2 separate regions of the Homo sapiens genome follow, and region 1 is linked to region 2. Evidence: fine-mapped expression QTL. A gene starts in region 2. The other region holds a variant in brackets. All regions are shown on one strand. Distances are between the middles of the regions.

Evidence for each region. PIP is the estimated chance that this variant, and not a neighbour inherited with it, causes the effect.
Region 1: its variant is fine-mapped to the expression of LINC02648 in whole blood (TOPMed, PIP above 0.99).

Annotation. Positions count from the first base shown.
Region 1 is chr10:6,585,693-6,596,990 of GRCh38, forward strand. No RefSeq gene overlaps it. Among named protein-coding and RNA genes, the nearest start is that of PRKCQ-AS1, 11 kb to the left of the region's middle. The variant C/T (reference allele first, on the strand shown) is at 6,724.
Region 2 is chr10:6,612,900-6,624,197 of GRCh38, forward strand. It overlaps LINC02648 (long intergenic non-protein coding RNA 2648), which reads left to right and starts at 5,817. Exons shown (of 6, transcript NR_120634.1): 1 at 5,817-5,877; 2 at 8,019-8,274; 3 at 8,811-8,963.

The DNA of each region.
Region 1 (11,298 bases), 27 kb before region 2:
GCACAATAATTAAGGCCCAAGTGAGTATAAAATTTTATCTGAAATTGAAGAGATATTGATTAGATAATCCACAGAGACTACTTTTTAGTGATTATCTTCCACCAGGGTAAAAGCAACAGCAGCCTGAAAATGCAAAAGACCATACATTTTAATGGTAAGTCCTCCCCAGGAAGGATTAATAAATCTCAGGAGGAAGATTTATTATCTGTAAATCCAGGAGGAAGAAATCAAGATGAAAACTATCATATTTATAAATTTGATTGTTGCAATTTTATAGTTTGACATAGTGCAATTGCTTTAGATTTGAAGGGGAACTTACTTTAGAGTAAGTCACTCAATCTCTTTTTTGGAAAGGCAAATGCCACACCTGATCCTCATCACTCCCTTCTCCTTTGTCCATAGCCTGGCTTTATTCTGCCATTAACACACACACACACACACACACACACACACACACAAATTGGGAAGAGGATTTCTCATTTTACAGAAAGTATGCTGGGCTACACAGGATATTCTATCAGGTTTCTTCCAGCTATAAAATTCTGAGACTAAATATCAAATTAAAGAAAGTACTAATTGTCAGCGATGGGGGATGTACTGCTATTTGCTTCTAGTGGTACTCACTGCTCATTTCCTATATTCACTGGTATAAAAAAATTTCAAACACCCTCAAAAAAGCCTATACTGGTGGTACCAGGAAAACGCTGAAAATCATTACTTTCTGTGTGGTGTCCAGCTCTTTTGGTTACATCATCACTTCGACCATTCACTTTTAAAGAAAAACTTTTGTGGAACAAAAATATAAAGATTTATTTTTTTTCTTGGTGGCTTAGCACAGTGGCCTAATGTGGCTGACCATGTGCACCTGTTGTGTGAGTCACTTAGACGTGCTTTGTTTCTTGGTCACAGTTGATCCCTCAACTCAAGCATCTCACCCTCAAAATGTTTGTTTGGGACCCAAGAGGCAAACCTTGAGATGGGTTATTTCTTTCACCTTGGATTGGCTCATCTGCTGGGAGTGGAGCCAAGCTGACATTTCCTTTCCTTTTTGTCTGCCTATCACTACGTAGAGGCAGCACATAAGAGAGGGAAAGCCATGCGCGTGGAGTCCAGCACATCACCCAGAAGGCAGATGTTCTATCTCCATTTTACTCATTAAAACAAACAAAACCACACCTGGATTGCCTGGTACTTAAATAAAATGCACTATGATGATTGAAGAAAAATATCTTATATTTAAGGAATAGTTTTAATAGCTTACATCTGTATTTCTATTAGCTTCCGTTTCTATTTTTAATATTTGTATAATATTAAAAGTAATTTTAAAAATGAACTAATCTTTTTACATCTCTTATGAGAATTTAATGGAGATATGATGTTTGAAGATCAAAGATACGTGGTATTTGAAATCAGAAAATGTGTTTGCTTTTCTACACAGATTACAAATATCATGCATTATTTCACAAACTCTTCTCAAAGTGTTGATTTTAAAATTAGTAAAAGGAGGGTATATTCATATCACATCCTGGCATTTTTATAGGCAAGATTGAGCAGCTATAACCTCTAAAGTGCTTTGATCCCTATAAGCCTCAAGAAGAGAATGGTGCAATTTGAATTAATAACTACCCATTATAGAGCATTTGTATCACAGTATTTTCCAAATACTATCTTATTTAACCCTACAGCAATCCTATGATATGGGGATTATGTACACATTACAGATGAGAACTTGAGGCTCGGAGAAAGTAAATAACTTACACAAGATCACAAAGCAAGTGACTGCCAGAGCCAGGATCAGAACCCAGTCAGGCTTCATTAGGAGCTCTGCTGAACTCTGTCTAGAGAATTCTCACCACCTGCTGCAAAGGCTAAAAGAAAGGGTCATATTCCACATGTAGATTTTGAGAAATATTTGTTATTTTTCTTATGATAAAGGTTATGCATACACACTCACACACACACACACACACACACAACTAGAAATTACAGAAAAGAAAAAAGATTAGCCAGAATGTCACCACCTAAAGACAGATAATATTTTGGTGTTTTCAAATATTCTTTTATCTATACTTTTTTGAATTATTTTATTTTAAAAATAACTTTTACTGGTTGCCTGATTATGAAGTAATAAATATTCACCATAAATATTTTGAAAAATATAAAACTGTCTATAAAAGAAATTTGAAATGATTGCTAATCTCAAAATATAGATACCTGTCAGTACTTTGGCATTTTATCCTCCTTGTGGCTGAGGTCACATATCTTGAGACTGAAGCACAAAATTTCTATACCATACAGTTTATAGTTTAGGCCACAACATCATTTTTAAAATTGTTTCTTTGGTTTTTACTTGATTTGCTGATGTTTTATTTTTTAGAAAATTGCAGATGTGATTTTTAGGCAGCTGATTGGAATGTTCTGGTTGCTCTGAATAGGACTAGCTACTTTGTTTTTTACTGAAGGACAAATATTATTCCTACACACATAAAAAACCTCAAAGAATGAGTAATGATACTGTTTAAATCTGCCCTTATAACTCCAAAGAATGACTTCAAATTTTCTTTCTTCCAAAGCAACTTTTAAAAGCCTTTCCACTGCACAGTGAAAGAAAACCACAAACTCCTTGTTTAATAAGTGGGATCACGTGCTTTTAACACGAGGAAAAGGTCAATCTGAAGCAACTGATATGGAACTGCCAGAGTAGGTACGTAAATTTAGGAGTTACATCAATTTGGGAGGGCTGCAGAAATGTGGATCAGATTTTAATCACACTGAGGAAGTTTCTTTGAGCAAAAGACGTGATGGTTGTTCTCTAGAACCTTTCTGTCCTGTCCGTTGCTTTGCCAAGGGAGCTAGAAAAGAAATAAACATTTAAGAACTTAAAAGGCTTCTGGATAAAACTCAGCTTGGTGCAACACATTTTAGCTATCACAGCTTTACTCCCAAGCTTCCACCTTTCCTAGGAGCGCAGTAAAAACCTGAGCCAAAGAAACCAAACAATAGAACTGAAATTCTTTAAACTTGAGTTCTTGAGGTTATAGTCTTTGTGCACTCCATAAAGTCAAAGCCCTAAAAAGATTTTTAGAAAACAAAACACTTGTATCTGTATCTATTTCCCCAAACCTCTCTACATTTACTTACCTTTTGCAGACTCATGCTTTCTCTTTTCCTTGTGATTGCATTTGGATAGAATGAAGACCTCTCCTACAGTTCTCAACTTAAATTCTTTCTTTTATTTCTTAGCTACGAAAGAAAATTCAAAAAATTCAATGCTCTACTTTGTAACTCCCTGGACATAGTGAGTCCATTATGTACATCATGAGGAGGGAGTGGAGAAAGTGGAATTCTTATGTAAATTCATACAGCTTTGGAAAATGGTTTAGCAGTACCTACTAAAGCTGAGCATATGCAAAACCAGTGACCCAGGAATGTCATGGGTACATAACCTACAAAAATGTAGACAGATGCGCTAAAAGACATGTACAACATGTTCACTGCAGCCCAGTTCATCATCACCCCAAAGTGGAAACATCTCAAGCGTCCACCAGCTGGAGGCTGCACAATAAAACTGTGGTACTTTCGTCGGTAGAAACATGCCACAGCTTGAACACACGCTGAAAACATAACGTCAAGTGAAAGAAGCCAGGTCCCAAAAAAAGACATACTGTATGATTGTATTTACATTAAGTCCCAAAACAGGTAAACTGAATTCATGCAATGGAAAGTCATGAGAGTAGCTACTGCATCTGGGGAGGCAGGTGGTGGAGTGCCAGGGAAGGAGCACCAGGATGGCTCATGGTGCTATTTTTATGACTTGATGTAGGGGATAGGTAATAGGTAGGTCCACTTTGGAAAAGTTCATCTAGCTGTGTATTTGTGACTTGCAGTCTTTTCTGCATGTGTCAATTCCAGTAAAAAGATTACTTGAAAATCAAGTATAATATTATTGTATTTACAAAGCCCTTTCTACGTAGCCAGAAACAGGGTTGGTTTCCCAGGTGACTGAGAGGTCGTCAGGAGCTTAGTGAGTGGAGGGCAGGGGACAAGTGTGTTCATTCTCTCTCCCTCTCTCTCTGCTGTTCTGTAAGGTGACAAGTTAGGCTTACTGCCAGTGTGACCTTAAATAAGCCATGCATGCTTTCTGAATCCTTTTTTCTTATTTGGTGAGTGACGTGCTAGTTAAAATGGTGTCTCCAGCCCTTTCCCGTCCTCGCTGCTGTGATTCAAGCCCCCTCCTTCTCTGTGGGGCTTCCTCCGACCTCTCGATTTCACTGTCACCTTTCTCTCTTCCTCTCTCTCCTGCTTCCTCCCTGTCCACCCCCATCTCTGTCCCCCCAGGGCCGAGTTTGTTTTATATCTCTTTTGGTATCTCCTCTGGTTTTCTGGCACCATGTCTTACGTAGAGCAAATAATAATGCTTTAAAAAATTCTCGATAAAGGAAAAAGTTCAGTAAAGTGTGAATTTCACATTGTAGTCAGTGGTTAAATGCCTCAAACACTTAAAAAGTAGAATTTATCTCAACCTGGGCAGAAGGCAGTCCATGCCAATTTCTAAATGGAATCCAATAGCAAGAATGCACAAAGAACAAGCAGGAGTGGTGAGGATTTCCTCACTCTGTCCCTCAGAGGTGGCGCGTCTCATCTGTGAGGTGAAAGTGTCATCACGTCATTGACATAAAGTATAAGTACAGGGAACATAATCATCTGGGAGATTTTAATTTGAGTTAATAAGAGATGAGATTTTCAGGCTAAAAGTCTTGGGGCTGGACAAAGAATATTTAAAAGGAGGGTTGGTGGATAAAGAAACTGTGGTATATTTATACGATGGAAGACTACTTGGCCATAAAAAGGAATGAATTAACAGCATTTGCAGTGACCTGGAGATTGGAGACTATTATTCTAAGTGAAGTAATTCAGAAATGGAAAACCAAACATCATATGTTCTCACTGATATGTGGGAGCTAAGCTATGAGGATGCAAAGGCAAAAGAATGATACAATGGACTTTGGGGACTTGGGGGGAAGGGTAGGGGGCGGCGAGACATAAAGACTAGAAATATGGTGCAAAGTATATTGCTTGGGTGATGGGTGTACCAAAATCTCACAAATCACCACTAAAGAACTTACTCCTGTAACCAAATACCACCTGTACCCCAAAAACTTATGGAAAAATAAATAAAAGAGGGTTGGATGATAAGAATTTGTCATCTTGTTTTCTGAATTGTTCAATTGTACTTAATTGTACTTCTTTCCTTAAGGAGTTGAAAATCTTCCTAAACTGCTGGAGGATACACCTCTGATAGCTTGAGACAAATATCCTCTTGATCATTGTTTCACCATATTTGTCTTTGCTCATGGAGAACCATTTTGATCCGTGGTTTAGCCTCCCAGGTGATTGAACAATACCGGTGATCTGAGGCAGACCCTCTGTGACGGATAACAGGTGAGTCTCTTGCATGTTTTTGCATCATGTACTGATTACCCAGACAAAACTGAGTTGGCACAGCTGCTAAATCCAGGATCAAGTGCTGGGATAGTAGTCATTCAAGGAGGAGGTGTCCTGAGGGGCTCATCCCTCAGTAGCCAGCTGTGCCCAGAGCAGAGAGGGGCACAGGGTGACAGAGTGAGGCAGGCAGAGGAAGCCGCACATGGCCAGGTGGGAATGGACATCAGGCTCCTGACTGCTCTCCTCACCCAGCTACACCTTCAGCTTTTCACTGGCAGACACCTGTGGCTGCTGAGATACCATCCCCTCCAGTGAGTCGGCTGGCAATTAGCTTATGGTCCTAAGGATATTTCTGGTGTTGCTGAGAAAGTCAGAGAAATAGAGGAAAATGTCAAGCTATGCTTTTAGAAAAGAGTAGATGTTAACTTGTTTGGCTTCTGACTCTCAGCCTTAAAGAAACATGTCACCTTCTTCCTCACCTGTAACGGCAACAAATCCTCGTAACAAACATCTTCCATTGATACTTGAAGAACATGCTCACATAGTAGGTGCTGGCTAGTTTGTACAACACGCCTCTGCTTGTATTTATCTACTCACAGGTGAGAATGAGTTGAAATAAAACGTGGAAGTTCCTAGGAAGCACTCAGTATTGCCCCTCCCTGCCCCTTTTCTGCTGTTATCTGCTGTGGGAGCAGGGGAGCAGGGCAGTGTGCTGTGGTGGCAGATGGTGGACTTCAGAGTCCTAGAACTCCCAGATTCATGATCATGACAGGTCTGGGCTCCACCACTGACAAGCCATGAGGACTTGGGGAGTCCCATGATCTCTCTGGGCCTCAGTTTCCTCTGCTGTAAAACAAAGCAATGGATGAGATAACATTTCTTTCCACTTGATAAATCCATAAAGTGCAAAAGAACCTAACTCTGACAAATATTTGTATAATATTTTTACTCCAGCAGGATGCATGATTTGTATTCAGCTGAGATGGATTGACTAAAAATTACACCTTCTGCTCACTCTAATTTATTGCTGTAGAAGAAAGAATAAGTGAGATATTTCCATTTCTAGTGACAGGTGGCTGGCACTTTGAAACCTTCCATTTCATTACTCACCTTAATGTTTTCACTAAAACACATGTGGTTTTCAAACACAGGAAGGAAAACATGGTAACCTGTGGTTACAATTTCCACTAGAAAATAGAAAAGGTGTAGGTCAGAAAGAATGTTTGTGGGGTGTTCCTTTTTTACTTTAAACATGAAAACCCATGTCAGAAGAGTTTT[C/T]TCTTGAGAAGAACACTGTTAATTGTTGCAATTTTCAAAAGTTGATGAAAATGGGGCCCAGTGGCCTCTGTTGTTGCAACCAGGGCAGTTGTGGTTGAAGAACTCTGAAGGCTTTAGTGCCAGGGATATTTTTAATCTTCCACTGTGTCTTCAAGCAGTCTCTCTCTTCTCTTTTAATTCAAATTCTGGGAAGCCTAAAGAAAATGTCTTTTCAGGCAGTCCTTCTCATACCCAAGTAGCTCCAAGAATCCCTTTTCAGATCCCATCTTGAAGCAAATTAGCTTGTTCAAATAGCATTTCCTCTGTAGCAATTACCTTCACAGTTATTTTCAGCTACTGGTTCCGTAGTTTGCTGTGATCAGTTGAATTTACCTGATACCTAAAATTAATTAATTCTTCAATAAATATTTGGAGAGCACCAACTAAGTTTACGACATGCGCACACATCTGAGTTAATTGGTTAATCAGAAAGAAATGCAAAACACAAAAGAAAAACTCTTTTGAATTTTCTAAATTGTAAACATCTACAACTACTAGAGATATGGAGTAAGTTTTAAGTAAATTCTATTTTCACAAGAGACTGGTATTTGAACTTCGGAAGTCCTCTTTCCAGATGGCCGGGGTACCTAGCAGGAGGGGGTGGGAAACCACTCCAATAAATGTTATGCGTTGGTTCAAGAAACCAGCTGTTCAACCTGCAAGAGAAAAATGTGTTAACGGAGTAATACATACATAGTAGTTTAGATTTTTTTCTTCTAATTGCTTTACTGATGACAATCAAATAAGAATATGCGTAGAGCTCTTCAGGGTATCAATAAAAACAGATGCAAGTCATGTTCACGTGCAGGTTCAGTTTTAAAGGGAAGAACCGCAGCATACATAGAACAGGAGAGCGGGACTGAGCTGTTCTGTACCAAGCTCTTATCTGCCAGACAAGATCTTATCTTACGTATTTATACACAAGCACAGATGTGCATGGTGAAACATGCATTTGTATCAATACAGGATAGCACTGGGGAGGACTCCTGATGGGTGGGAGGACTCCTCCAGTACTTGTTCCACTGCAGCCTGCCCTCGGCACAAGCAGCCAGAAAGATTCCCTAACAGCAGAGTCATACCTGCCACTCTGTCCCAGCCCCCAGGGCTTCCTTCTCCCTACAGGACCTGGCCAGTCCCTAGGCCCCAGATCCGCCTCTGATTCATCTTCCCCACCCAGCTCCAGCTGCATCAGCCCCTGTTTGCTTCTTAGCATGCCGGCAGGCTGGAGCCCAGGGCACAAGTCTCCATGTTTGGCTTGAACATCAATTTCTCCAGGATGATTTCCCTGATGACTCTGTTTTAAATTTCAGGCCCTCTGTAACCCCTGTCCACACATACACACTAGACCCTATGCTCCCTTTCCCTATCTCCCTCCCCATCCCTCTTCCCAGTTGGCTTCACCTTTCTGGAATAGAAACTCTATGCAAGCAGGGATTTTCCCCGTGTATCACTTATTATTGTATCCCAACAACTAGAGAGTACTTGGCACATAGTAGACGTTCAAACAACGTTCGTTCAATGAATGCATGAATTAAATGTAACTAATCACAATACATTCACAGATATATGAAATAATTCACTTACTTATGCAGAAGAATTGGGTAGCTATGGATTTAATTAGTCCTTTCACGTCTTAAGAAGTATTTAATTCATTTACAAATATAAACAAAGAGCAAATTCTTTACCTCACATGGAATATCCTCTTTTGGACAGCTGGCATCAAATTGGCTCCGTGAACATTAGTCATAACACAATGGTCATCTTTCTTTATTCATTGGTCATCATTCTAACAGTGTAGAGTCAGAGTCCCTATCTTTCAGATAGGGAGCTGTATTGGTTTTCTACAGGTGCTGTAAAAAACCTCTACAAACTAAGTAGCTTAGAACCAAAATGTATTGCTGCACAGTTCTGTAGGTCAGAAGTCCAGGCTCACTCAGTTGACTTCTTCAGGTTTCACAAGGCAGAACGTCGGGTTGCTGGCTGGCCTGGGCTCCTACCGGGAGGCTCCAGCAAGGTGGGAGGAAGGGATCCCTTCAGTGTCCTGAGCAGCACTGTGGTTGCCTCCCTCCCTTGGCCAGAGGAGAAACATTTTAAGAACTGACACAGATGGCACTCGTGCCATATGGATAACTCCTACTAGTCTGGAGTGTGGCTTTGGTGCTGTTGCTGCAGACACCTTGTGCAAATGAATGGCTGAGGAAGACCCCCTTCCACACGATGCTGAGTAAGAGGAGCTAGTCTCGGAAGAAGAGCACAGACCCTGTGATTCCATTGCCTCAAATACCAGAGCAGGCAGGACCTTATCTGTGGCGGTCAAAATTAGATTAGTGGATTCCAGGGTCAGAGGGTGGTGGACAGAGTTTGACTACACAGGAACATAAGACACATTTCTGGCAAGATGAAACTATTTTATATCTTTTTGAAAAAGTTATTTATTTATTTATTTATTTAAGTTAACGCTTAATTTTAATATAATTGTATATATTTATGGTATACAACATATTTCCACATGTGTGCACCTTGTGGCATGGCTAAATCAAGCTAACTGACATACGCATTACCTTACATACTTACGGTTGATTTGTGGTGAGAACACTTAAAATCTACTCTCTTAGCAATTTCAAGTAATAACAATACATTGTTATTAATTAGAGTCACAATGTTGCACAATGGATCCCTTGAAGGAGTCCTCCCCTCTATCTGAAATTTTGTATCCTTTGACCAACATCTCCCTGTCTTCCCTTGCCCCCCCTCAACCCCTCCCCCAAGCCCACTGCCACCGGTTTTCTATGTTTCGATTGGGATAGTGGTTACATGATACATGTTTGGAAAAAATCATTGACTTGTACAATTACAATGTGTGAATTATATTGTATGTAAATTATTCCTTAACACTATTGACAAAAATAGTAAAATTAATAAAACAGTGTAAATACTACACCTAATTTTAAACAGAAAAAAAGATGAGAGACATCATTCCAGCATATTTTAGGAGGTCATTTAATATGAGATCTACCCTCATAACAGATTTCTAAGTGCACAGTTTCGTGTTGTTAACTACAGGCACAATGTTACGTAGTGGATCTCTAGAATGCAATCTGATTTCCTCAACCCCCATAGTCCGTCCTATACAAAGGAGTTCTCTGTGGAGTCATTTACCTTGCTTATTTGGTTGGTAAATTACCACCTGTTCCTGTTGATGAGTTTGCAGAGAAATTCACAGATGTTGCTGAAATTTTCAGCCTAGCCATGTTGGTTTTGAACAGTGACTGGTTTTGCTTTTTGTGAAGAAAACACTTGCTCGAACAGCATCCTTTGAAGGAGACACTGTAAGGTCAAAATTCTTTTGCTGGCTGCCTCAAGCTACTGAGTGAAATCACATTTCACTGTATACTTTTGTCCTCCTTTCTAACTGATAGAGACATGCCAACTGTGGGGAAATGGTAAATATGTTAGATTTTCTTCCATTTTCAGACAAAAACGACTCTTTAACTGAGGGTATTATGTTTCTGATGTGCTTTTTTAGTTGCTATTTTTATGTAGGTTAAAAAAAGACATTTGATGATGTCTCGTAAGTATTTTTCCAACTTATACAAAGCTTTTCATGTAATAAAAACATCATTACGACACTATCAAAGACAATGAGCTTATTAATGAGTGTCAGGGATTTTGCTAATTTTTGGAGTTTGTATCAGTTGTATGATCTCTGCCTTAAAAATCTGATTTAGTATTAAAATGCTTTTTTCAATAATTAGTTGTAGCAAATTTAAACTTGTGAGTTTATATATTTTTTTTCTCTTGGTACTATGATTCTGGAGTTGATGATGTAATAGAATCATAATGGTAATTTACTAAAAGCTTGAATCACTGAATCTCAAAGAATTAAACACCAAGCTGAATGGGAAAATCAAAATAAAAGTTACTGTGTATTTCAAGATTACTTGAGAGATTTTTTAAATGAGAAGCTAGAAAGCAGATATCTCAAGCGATTTAAGTAGAATTATGTGAAACAAATAAATAACTTTCAGTATACCATTTCTTTTTAAGTCAGAGAAGCAGAGAAACTAAATACATGGACATTGGATAGGCCATCTTTAAATGAGAAGTCAGAATTTATGTTTCCTAATGAAATTTAAAGATTTAATAGAGATATTTAAATTCCAACTAAAATTATTTCTGTAGGCAGAGCCTATCACAATTGCTGAAATTATAGCTAGGAAATTAGCAAATGCCCTATCATACAGTAATTTATCTTTCCATTTTTTTGATGATATGGAAAATGAAACTTTTTAATCTTTAAGTTTCCATTAATTGATTGCATATTATAGAACTTTTATAAATATGATTCTTACATTAGACTATGAGGTAGATATTATATCTTTGTTTTACAGAAAAGAAAATTGAGGATCAGAAAATACGCACAATTTGCAAAAACCATGGGTGAGTAGATGGCAGAGTGTAGATTTGAAAGCAGTGTTGACTTTAAGCCTGTGCCTCCAGTAACCTTCCCATGATACACAGTCACCATTCAAAGAA
Region 2 (11,298 bases):
ACTTTGCAAACATACTCTGTGAAAGAAGCCAGTCATAAAAGATCACATGATATATAATTCAATTTATATGAAATATCCAGAATAGATAAATCTCTAGAGACAGAAAGTGGATTACTGGTTTCTTAGGGCTGGAAGGAGGGCTGGGGGGATTAGAGAGTGATGGGTAGTGGGTACAGGTTTCTTTCTGGGGTGATGAAATATTCCAAAACAGATTGTGTTAAAAACCACCACATTGTATACTTTAAATGAATTATTTGCATGGTATGTAAATTATATCTCAATAAAGTTGTTACAATGAATACATATTCTTGTAGCAAAAAATAAAAGATGAGATAGTGAAATGCACAAAATGCTACTAAAAGGTGGTGTAAAATCAGGATACAAATATCCAACATATTTGGTAACACGCAAGAGAGCGGTCACTTTGATAAGAGCTGGTAGAGCAGGCTTACCTGAAAAGCCTCTAAGAATTTCCAGGCCATGAAGAGTGTTTATTGGAGATTTATCAACATGAGTTCAAAATGAGACCAATCTGTGAACTAGAGCAGACCCCAAATATTGGTCTGGGTGAAAAAATCGACAAAAATAAGGACTTGGGCTTGCCTAATGTTGCTTTCACTAGGTTTTACCATGTACTTAGCAAGAAAGTAAAGGAGACATTTAAAATATGAACATTTTGTAATGGGGTAAGGGATCATTGTTCTCTGATCCCTTACCTGTTCCTGCTATAGATGAATCCAGGATTCGGTGGTGCCTGTTCCAGGAACCTTTAGTGTGAAGGATCCTCCAGGTGAGAGAAGCCTTTATGTCTTCTGAAATGGTTCTGCTGTGTCCCCACCCAAATCTTGTATTGAAGCTCCCATAATTCCCGCGTGCTGTGGGAGGGACCCAGTGGGAGATAATTGAATCATGGAGGCAGTTTCCCCCATACTGTTCTTGTGGTAGTGAATAAATCTCACCAGATCTGATGATTTTATAAGAGGTTTCCCCTTTCACTTGGCTCTCTCATTCTCTCTTGCCTGCCGCCATATAAGATGTGCCTTTTGCCTTCCACCATGATTGTGAGGCCTCCCCAGCCACACAGAACTGTGAGTCCATTAAACCTCTTTTTCTTTATACATCAGCCAGTCTTGGGTATGTCTTTATCAGCAGCATGAAAACAGACTAATCCACCTTCTTTGGGCTTGATGGGTGGGGATAGGGAGAGGTGGAGATAACCTGCCTCACTGAGACCTATCATCTGGGTTCTAAGTGCATAATTCCTTGCTGGCCCCAGATACTGAACCAAGTTCTCCTGTGTTTAATTTCTTGCCTTTCCTTCGTGTCTACTCGAAGTTTCATGGCATCAGACGAATCTCTGCCCCAGCGGGGTCATATGAATTTCTTCTGAAACACTCAAATGCATAGGGCAATGAGAGAGTGGAGCATCAGCAGGCTGACATCTGTTCTTTAAGAACTCTTTAGCAGAAATAGTCAGACATAAATGTGCATGCTCATTTAAGCTACGCTCTAGGACACAGTTTCTCTAATGGCATCTTGTGAGATGTCACTGGTGATTCTGCAAGGGAGTGTGAATGAAAAAGTAAACCCTAATTAAAAAAATTTTTTTTGCAGTAGGTTACTGGGGGTACAGGTGATGTTTGGTTACAGTTCTTTAGTGGTGATTTGTGAGATTTTGATGCACCCATCACCCGAGCAGTATACACTGCACCCTATTTGCAGTCTTTTATCCCTTGACCCCTCCCACCCTTTCCCCCAAGTCTCCAAAGTCCATTGTATCATCCTTATGCCTTTGTGTCCTCACAGCTTAGCTACCACATATCAGTGAGAACATACAATGTTTGCTTTTCCATTCCTGAGTTACTTCACTTAGAATAATAGTCTCCAATCTCATCTGGGTCACTGCAAATGCCGTTCATTCATTCCTTTTTATGGCTGAGAAGTATTCCATTGTATATTTCTACCACAGTTTCTTTATCCACTTGTTGATTAATAGGCATTTGGGTTGGTTCCACAATTTTGTGATTGTGAATTGTGCTGCTATAAATCTGCAAGTATCTTTCTCGTATAATGACTTTTCGTATGAATCTGCAAGTATCTTTTTCTTATAATGACTTCTTTTCCTCTGGGTAGATGCCCAGTAATGCGATTGCTGGATCAAATGGTAGTTCCATTTTAGTTCTTTAAGGAATCTCCACAGTGTTTTCTATAGTGGCCATACTAGTTTACATTCCCACCAGCAATTAGAAGTGTTCCCTGATCACTGCATCCACGCCAACATCTACTGTTTTTTGATTTTTTGATTATGGCCATTCTTGCAGGAGTAAGTTGGTATCACATTACGGATAAACCCCAGTTTTTGAACTTCACATACTGCACAATGCTGGTGATGTAGCAGCCCTGTTGGGATTTTGTTAGGGATCCTTAATCCTTGTTGTGTTGCTGTGAACAGGACTGTGTTTATTTGCAGGAGTCCATTCTCAATTTTCTGTGCAAATTGGGGAAGGCTGTTGATAATCGGTGGATGCTATAGTGCCCATGGAAAGACTCTAGTCTGAAGATACCAGTCTCTCCCTCCCAAGATCACCTCCCCTGACCAACCTTCTGCACTCCTGACAGATACAAGGGAGCAAGCAAGTTGCACCCAACCTAATAGTAAATTGCAGGGACATTTCCATTCTAAGGAAGGAATTTTTGTGTGTGTTGCAACTCAGCTTCTGCTCTGGCATTTTGCTGTGGTAAGCATTGCAAGGCAAGGTTTATATAGGTTAGAAGAGAATTTTATTGTGACATTTTCTTTTTTTTTTTTTTTTGCAATTTCTGTTCAAGTATTTATTATGCCCTCTGTGTTATCATTTATTAGCATTTATATTGCCAATCATGTTGGAGAGTCCATGTGGTGATTTCTGAAAACGAGATGTGAGAAAGAAGAGGATAATTTAAGTCTAGACCTACAGATTGTGCTGATAAAGTGATGAAGAACTACAATCTTCTTAGTCATTTCATTGTATAAGTGCAATAAAGGGTATGTAATAAATTTGTATGTTCATATTTACAACGGAAACTGCTTATCAATGAATTTCACGGGGCATTTGTGTCTTGCCAGATTTTGTGTCTTTCCTGGCAAACAACTTGTGACCACAGTGATGGCTCCAGCAGAATGGAAAAGACCCTTTACCTCACATCTCAGAAGTAAAGATGCTGATTATTTGACATCGCCATTGGAATCTCAAAACAGTGTAAAGCATTTGCTAAAAAGAGTCACTTTCTGAGAAATGACTCAGAATTCGACTTACGTACTAGCAGAACTTATTGCCCATAAAAGGAAAGGCCACACTTTTTGTGAAAACTTAATAATCCCTAGGATGTAAAATTATACTGAGTTAAATCCTAGTCCCATTTTTAGTACAAGAAACTGGAAAAAAATAATCCACTCTCAAATGGTAAGACAAATTGAGATATTGCTGAAAAGCCTCTTGACCCTGAAAAGTTCTGAATAATAAACTGATAAAAGCAGCAGCAGCATCTAACTTGACACCAGTCATGTCATTTGTAAGTAAGGTTGGTAAATAGTAATGAAATTCAAGCAATATTTTCAGCTATGAAGAGCTGCTCAAACCAAGCAAAGGCCAAGATCTACTTTAAATTTTGTCTACGTATCTTTAAACAAGGCATCTGTCTTGGGGGCATTGTGTTAGCATCTGTACCGGTAACACCTCATCCAGGGTTGGCTTGATAAGAGGCTTCACATTTTTTGTAGAATAAGAAAAAAACCTGGCATTGTCACAACACACTGATTTGTTCATGCAGTAGTGCTTGGGGTCAAAAACTCTTGGAATGACCAGGCAGAGTGGCTCACACCTGTAATCTCTGCACTTTGGGAGGTCAAGGTGGGCGGATCACTTGAGGTAAGGAGTTCAAGACCAGCCTGGCCAATAGGGTGAAACCCCATCTCTCTTTTTTTTTTAAATTATACTTTAAGTTCTAGGGTACATGTGCACAATGTGCAGGTTTGTTACATATGTATACATGTGCCATGTTGGTGTGCTGCACCCATTAACTCGTCATTTACATTAGATATATCTTCTAATGTTATCCCTTCCCCCTCCCTCACGCTGCGACAGGCCCCGGTGTGTGATGTTCCCCTTCCTGTGTCCAGGTGTTCTCTTTGTTCAATTCCCACCTATGAGTGAGAACATGCAGTGTTTGGTTTTCTGTCCTTGCAATAGTTTGCTCAGAATTTTTTAAACCCCATCTCTACTAAAAATACAAAAATTAGACAGGTGTGGTGGCGGGCACCTATAGTCCCAGGTACTTGGGAGGCTGAGGCACTAGAATCACTTGAACCAAGGAGGCGGAGGTTGGGGTGAGTTGAGATTTCGCCACTGCACTCCAGCCTGGACAACAGAGTGAGACTCTGTCTCAAAAAAAAAAAATAAAGAAAAGAAAGTAACAAAAGGTTTGAATGCTCCTGCAAATACAGTCAAACAGGGATAAGTTCAACTGAGATTTTTAAAATTTTGTGAAAAGTCAGATAAAGAGACATCATCTTCTCCTCCAAACAGAAATGTCATGACTGTGCTTGAGGGATACTTTCAAGATGACACAAAACCAGGTTTTTGGAGTGCTTTGAAGATGGAGAATGGCTTATTAACACTAGTCACATTGGCAGATGTTTTTCATAACATCAACCAGTTGAATAAGCCTCTGCACAGCCCTGGAGAAAATGTTTTCACCAAAAATGTCAAGAGTTTTTGGATTTAAAAGAAAACTAAAGTTTTGGAAAAAACCATGAGGCAAAAGAAATCCTTGAGATGTTTCCATTGTTGCTTGGGCCTGGGGCCATCAGTAAGTCTCAATTCTTATTGAGCAGAACCTGGCAGCACTGTAGAATGAAACTGAACCATACCTACCCTCTCTTTAAACACAAGTGCATGACCAGGCGAGGGAGCGTTTCGTTGAATCTTTGACTCAGTCTGAGAACAGAGTCTGGAGAGAAGAGGAAGAATCCTGCACCCCATGCAACCCCAGACTCTCTAGATGGGACTCACATATCACTCTGGAGGCGAGTCCTGGGTTTCTGGGTAAGAGAGTGCTCTGTCAGCCTCAGGGAAACCATGAACACTTCACTGCAGTTGCAACTTCCCGCACATAGGAACAAATTTTCTGTTATTTAATAAACACCAAGAGCAAGGGAAAAAGTTGTAGCCCTTCAGTTGACAATGACATCTGTGTGTACCTCAAGTTTGACTCAGAATTGAATTTTTAGGCAGCACATGTGTCACATTAAAGAAGGTCAAGTTGATCACCAATGACCAATGGTTTAATCAGTCACGGCTTCGTAAAAACTAAAAAGGACAGAATTCAGAGGGCTTGCAGTTAGTGGAACACGTGGAGGGCCCTGGAGGGTGTCATGCCCAGGACATGATAGCTCTGTACCCCATCCCATGTATCTCACCATATGCATCTCTTCATCTGTGTCCTTTGCAACATTCTTTAGAATAAACCAGTAAATGTGTTTCCCTGAGTCCTGTGGGCTGCTCTTGCAAATTAATCAAACCCAGGGAGAGTCGTGGAAACCCTGACTTGATGCCAGTTGGTCAGAGTTCAGGAGGCTTGGACTTGCAACTAGGAGGAAGGAGGGGGTTGGGGACTGAGCCTACAACCAATGGGATTGGTCACTATCTCCAGGTAGATAGAGTTGGAATTCAGTTGGAGGACACCCAGCTGGTGTCCACTGCTTGGTGGTGAGAAGAAACTCCCACACCTTTGGTCACAGAAGTCTTCTGTGTTTATTGTTCTAGTGTGAGAACAGAGGAGAAGCCTGGTTTGAGTGAGTTTTTCCTGAAGCAAAAGGGAAGAGCTTAATTTCAAAAGGTAAGTTAGTTATATTTTTCTCTAGGAAACAATTGATTGCTTAAAAAGATATGATTAGGCCGGGGGCAGTGGCTCATATCTGTAATCCCAGCACTTTGGGAGGCCAAGGCGGGCGGAACACCTCAAGTCAGGAGTTTGAGACCAGCCTGGCTAGCATGGCGAAACCCCGCCTCTACTAAAAATACAAAAATTAGCTGGGCATGGTGGTGGGCGCCTGTAATCCCAGCTACTCGGGGGGCTGAGGCAGGAGAATCGCTTGAACCCAGGAGGCGGAGGTTGCAGTGAGTTGAGATCATGCCACTGCACTCCAGCTTGGGCAACAGAGCGAGACTCCATCTCAAAAAAAAAAAAGATATGATTAGTTTTAAACAAGGGAAACAAATTCCACTTGCATGTACTATGTGTCACACATCTTTAGCCTTTTGTATCCTGAACATCATTTAAAACTTCCCTCCAGATTAGAAAGTTGAAGTCTGCTCATGGGGCCTTCAGTTGCTGTCTTAGAAATTCACTCTCAGGGTGTCAGAAAGTCCATCCTCCATAGGCATTTACAACAAGGAATTTGATTCCTTCTATCCCTGGTCAACTCCAGGCTTTTTAAAAAAGTAGCTTAATAAATATTAAGAGTGCATTTTTCTTTGTGAAGTTTGACACTCATTAATTAACACAATTGTTGGAAATGGGAATTTTTTTTTTTTTTTTTTTGATGGAGTCTCACTCTGTCACCCAGGCTGGAGTTCAGTGGCATGATCTTGGCTCACTGCAACCTCTGCCTCCTGGGTTCAAGCGATTCTCCTGCCTCAGCCTCCTGAGTAGCTGGGACTACAGGCGCGCACCACCATGCCTAGCTAATTTTTGTATTTTTAGTAGAGGCGGGGTTTCACCATGTTAATCAGGCTGGTCTCGAACTGCTGACCTCGTGATCTACCCTCCTCGGCCTCCCAAAGTGCTGAGATTACAAAGATTAGTGGTAGTAAAGCGGTATGGGTGGCCTAAAATATTTTAGAGACATTACTTACACTTAGAATAGCAAATTACATCCCTATCTGGGCCTGTGTTTAGAATGAGTCAGACGGTTTTTTGTTGCCTGGTGACAGGCGTTGGGGTCACAGAGTCCTCTTTCTGCGATGTTGTGTATGACCCAGAGAGTCTCTGGCAAGATGTGGACAGATCTCTAAAAGGTCGGGGAGCTCAGTCTCCACGAAGCTTGCAGAACCCTCCCCATCTGCCTGCTAATAAACGATTACGTATAAAAATGTCTAAATACGTGGTGGTGTTGAATCTGTGACTTGGTTTTATTATAACCAGGTGGCAGGAAAGTAGCCAACCCTCACTCACATAGAACTTTCCACACTACTGTTTTCTCTTCCAAAATAACCAAGAATTTTTCATGGTCAAGTACAAGTGGAAATGGCTGTCGGTTTGCAACAGCCAGGTTTACCAATGGATAGTGTTTTGCCAGGGGGTGGGACCTAGAATGAAAGGGGCAAGAGATCTGAAGGATGGGCAATGGGAGTGGTTGCACTATGGATCTGTAGAATATTCATCCTCCTAAACTGAATTAGGAGGAATGTAGTCATGGGGGTGGTTAAATGATGAGAAAATATGATGGAGTCTACTGATTGACATGAAGGAAGAATTTTTGCCATGTTCTTTTTAATGTTTTTCTTTTTCTCCTCTAAAAATAAGATTTCAGTAGTGTGACCACAAATTAAACCTTAATGACACCCTAAGTAAAGAAGAGACTGGCCCCTCAGGGAATCCTTTATTATTTAGTATGGTAACTTGCTTCTTGATTTTACAAATATGAATTCTCTTGAAGAGAAATTTTGATCTAAGGCCAACTTTTCCCTTAATGGTTCCTTTGTGTCCATGAAGAGATGGTAAATGCATACAAAGTTATTAGCAGCACTTTTCATAAAATAAAATTTAACACAGAAATTTGCTGCAAAATTAACTGCCAAAAGTTTTATATAGAAATGAATTTCGGGTTAACCACTATTTTATTTTACATTGAACATGGAAATTCACAGAACTTATTGACTTTATTATTCCACTATGTTCTTTCAACATAATTTGCTAGTCTATTAAACTCTTGCCCAGGAAAATAAACCTGAAAATAACCTTATTGCTCATTTCAGGAATATCTTGAAAGACGCATCAACTCACCATTAGAAAACATGAAACGACAGATTATATCCTAAGATTGTGTGAACCTCTTACCTGGAAACCCGTACAATTGCTTTATCTACCAATCCTAAACTATTATATCTTGATCTTTACTCAATCCTAATTACACACCCACATTGAAAGACCTATCTTAATTCAGACTTCAAAATCTTACAAACGTCCAAGTCCCTCCTTTGAAATGCTACTAAGACTGCAGTAAGAATACATGTAAGTATAAACATATCTATATTAGCTTTTTTTAAAACAACAGTGTCATTATCCTTTTTGTGAAACCATATGCTAACATTTATTGAGCATTAATAAGCACTGGGGCTGAGCACCTTCTCACACTGAGTTCTCAAGACAACAGTGTATGAAAGGTACTATTATTATTCCCACTTTACAGAATGGGAAAATGAGGCTTAAAAACATTAAATGCAGTAATTTCCCTATGGTTGCACAAGTAGGAAGGAGAGGGGGCCAGGAGCCCTGGTCGTTTACCCTCAGAGTCCACCTTTTGAACCAATGTTAATCTTCTTTCCAATTCTTTTAGATAAGAATGGTTCTTAATCATGTGCTGCATGTTTCACTGAGTTTTCTTCTTATCTCCTCTTCTAATCGAAACCAGAAGACCCAATATAATATCTAGTGTTCTCACCCAGCCCACATGCTCAATGCTGTAAAGCTGAAAATGGATCCAATGCTGTCGCAGAGAGGCAGAGAGTGAATTCCCAAGAGTTATGAGTCATCCATTCCCCTTTCAGAGCATGCAGTGACTGAGAGGAAGAGAGATACTAACACTTGAAGTAATCCAGTCTATCAATAGGAGATGGACTGCTTTGATTTAAAGCGATTTACAAAAGGATTTGGATACCTCATCTCTCCTGTTTCGCCAAGGTCTTGACTCATCGCTGCAGGTTGTATAATTAGTCTCATTAATCTAGCAAATGATGGCAAAATGCTTGGTAATGATGTCTAACTGGGGTTCCTTTCCAAGGAACCTTTGTTGTTTAATTAGGAGATAATGGATGAGCTTGTAGAGAGACCAGGGTTATAAAAGGCAGTAGCATGTCAATGTGCCCATGCCTAGTTCAATACAATGGTTTTTAAGCCAAGTATTCAAATAAATTGACATTATGTAGGTACATGAATTTAAAAGGGGTCATTATTCACTAACTATATTTTAACATATGCTTAGAGCAACCCATTACTGCTGGGGATAATAAACGGTGCCCAGATGAACAACCACATTGCATACAAAGGATGGTGTCTGAGATCACTACTGGGCCCGACTTAGCCACCATCTTTCCAAATAGAATCATAGGTTTGGAAATTTATCCCTTCTATGGATGAAGCACCAAACTATTAAACTGCAAAACCATTCTGTATTTATTCTTTCCAGCTGCAGTTCCCTTGACAATAAATGAAGAGTTTGTCCTCTGATTATGTTTGATTTGTTCTCTTATTTACCCCAAAAGATTATATTAAAATTTATATTTCAGTTTGGATGGTTTCAGTTGTAAGTAACCAAAAAGCAAACTCAGACTGTCTTAAACAAAAAGGGAGATCTAGCGGCTAGAGGCAGAGCAGGCCTAGCTCTTGAATCAGAGTCCTGGTTTTAGTCTTTGATGTGTCTCTCCACCCTGCCCTTCTCTGACACTCAAATTTCATGGGTGCTACACGTAGAGGGAGGGTAGCATGGAAGGTGTGGAGATAACTACTATGTCTACTTACGTGTCCACGAGTAACCTCATCACCACGTTGGGAGAAGCTACATACGATACTTTTTGGGAGAAACTGAGCTCCGGAGCTGCTTGGTCAATCTCCCTGTAACCGAATCACAGGTTCACTTGATCACCACCTGCAGAGTCCAATCAACAAGAGCAAGGTCTGGTATAAAGAAAGTGACATTTTATTCTAAAGCTAGCTTACGGGAAGAAGTCCAGGCTTCCTGCCTTAAGGGTACTGCTTCAATTTTGGAGGAGAAAGTGGGCACTTTTAAAAGGGGGCCTGGCATGAGCGGCATGCGGGGGAGGGAGTGAGCAGCTGGGGGTCCATGGGACTTGCCTCGGTGCTTTATCTACTGCTCAAGCCGGCACCATCACAGGCAGAACCAGGTTGCAAAGCAGACTTGTCTCAAGATATGCTCCAGGTGGGAGAGAGTTTCATGCCGGGAATACTTTGGGTTGTAAATTGACTGTTGTTTCTTGAGGCATCTCCTTGGGGAGAGGTTTCTGCTCTGGAGCCTCTAAGTAAGTATACAGTTAGATAAGCTTGCCTTGTAAAGAACATCTGGAGAAGGCAGAATGTTATAATTGCATTTCTAAAGAGCTAAGTAGGAAGTGGGGAGATGGGAAAAGGAGAAAAGAGAAAAGAAGAAAATAATAATGAAAAAATAACGCGTTCTCTTTGTCTTAATAAATGGGGATACTTGGTTACATGCCCGCTGACAAAGACTCTCTTCTTGATTAAGCTAAGGCTCCTCTGAGCCATCTTCTCAACTAGGCCTTAACCTTGGCCCATGAGGATGGCTGACTCTCAGCACAGACAATTTTTTCTACCCATTCCCACACTAAGAGACACAAACAAACACTATCATTGTAACCGAACTCAGATCTGGGCTACTCATTGCTTGAAAGCCAAAAACTCAAGAGAGCTTTGGTGAAAAGAAAGTTCGCTTCATTCAAGAAGCCGGCAAACCAGAGGAGGGAGTGAACTAGCACTCAGAGACCACCTCTCGGAGCTTTGCTTCTGGATCTTGATCCAGGGGGGGTTTAAGGGAAATTAGGGGAAATGATGACCAAAACATTTCTGTGAAATGTGCACAATAGGCAGCCAGTTAATCATTGCTTTCTTCATCAGTGTTTCGTGAGCTTCTACAGGTTCGTCAGCCCATTCTTAGAGCTGTTGGTTGGCAAATTTTCTTTTATCTCTGTTGAAGATCTTGTTTTCCTGTAGCTGTTATTAGTAAATAATGCACAAACTCAAGCGAAGCAATAATTGCATTCAAGCAAGCTTTTCTCTAACAAGGAGTCAGCACTGTCACAGCACGGTTCCTAATAGCTCAAGGATGCACTCCTGGGATGAGGACTCCAGGCTCCTTAAGTTCCTGCCTGGGAAAACTCAAGGCTGCCAGAATGATTTACTTTTTGTTCCAGCCAACCCCTGAAGATAGGGCACCTGCCTTCTAGTCTCCATGGGAGGACAGAAGCCTAACTGGATAATCGCCAGTTAACAAACACAGATGGACTA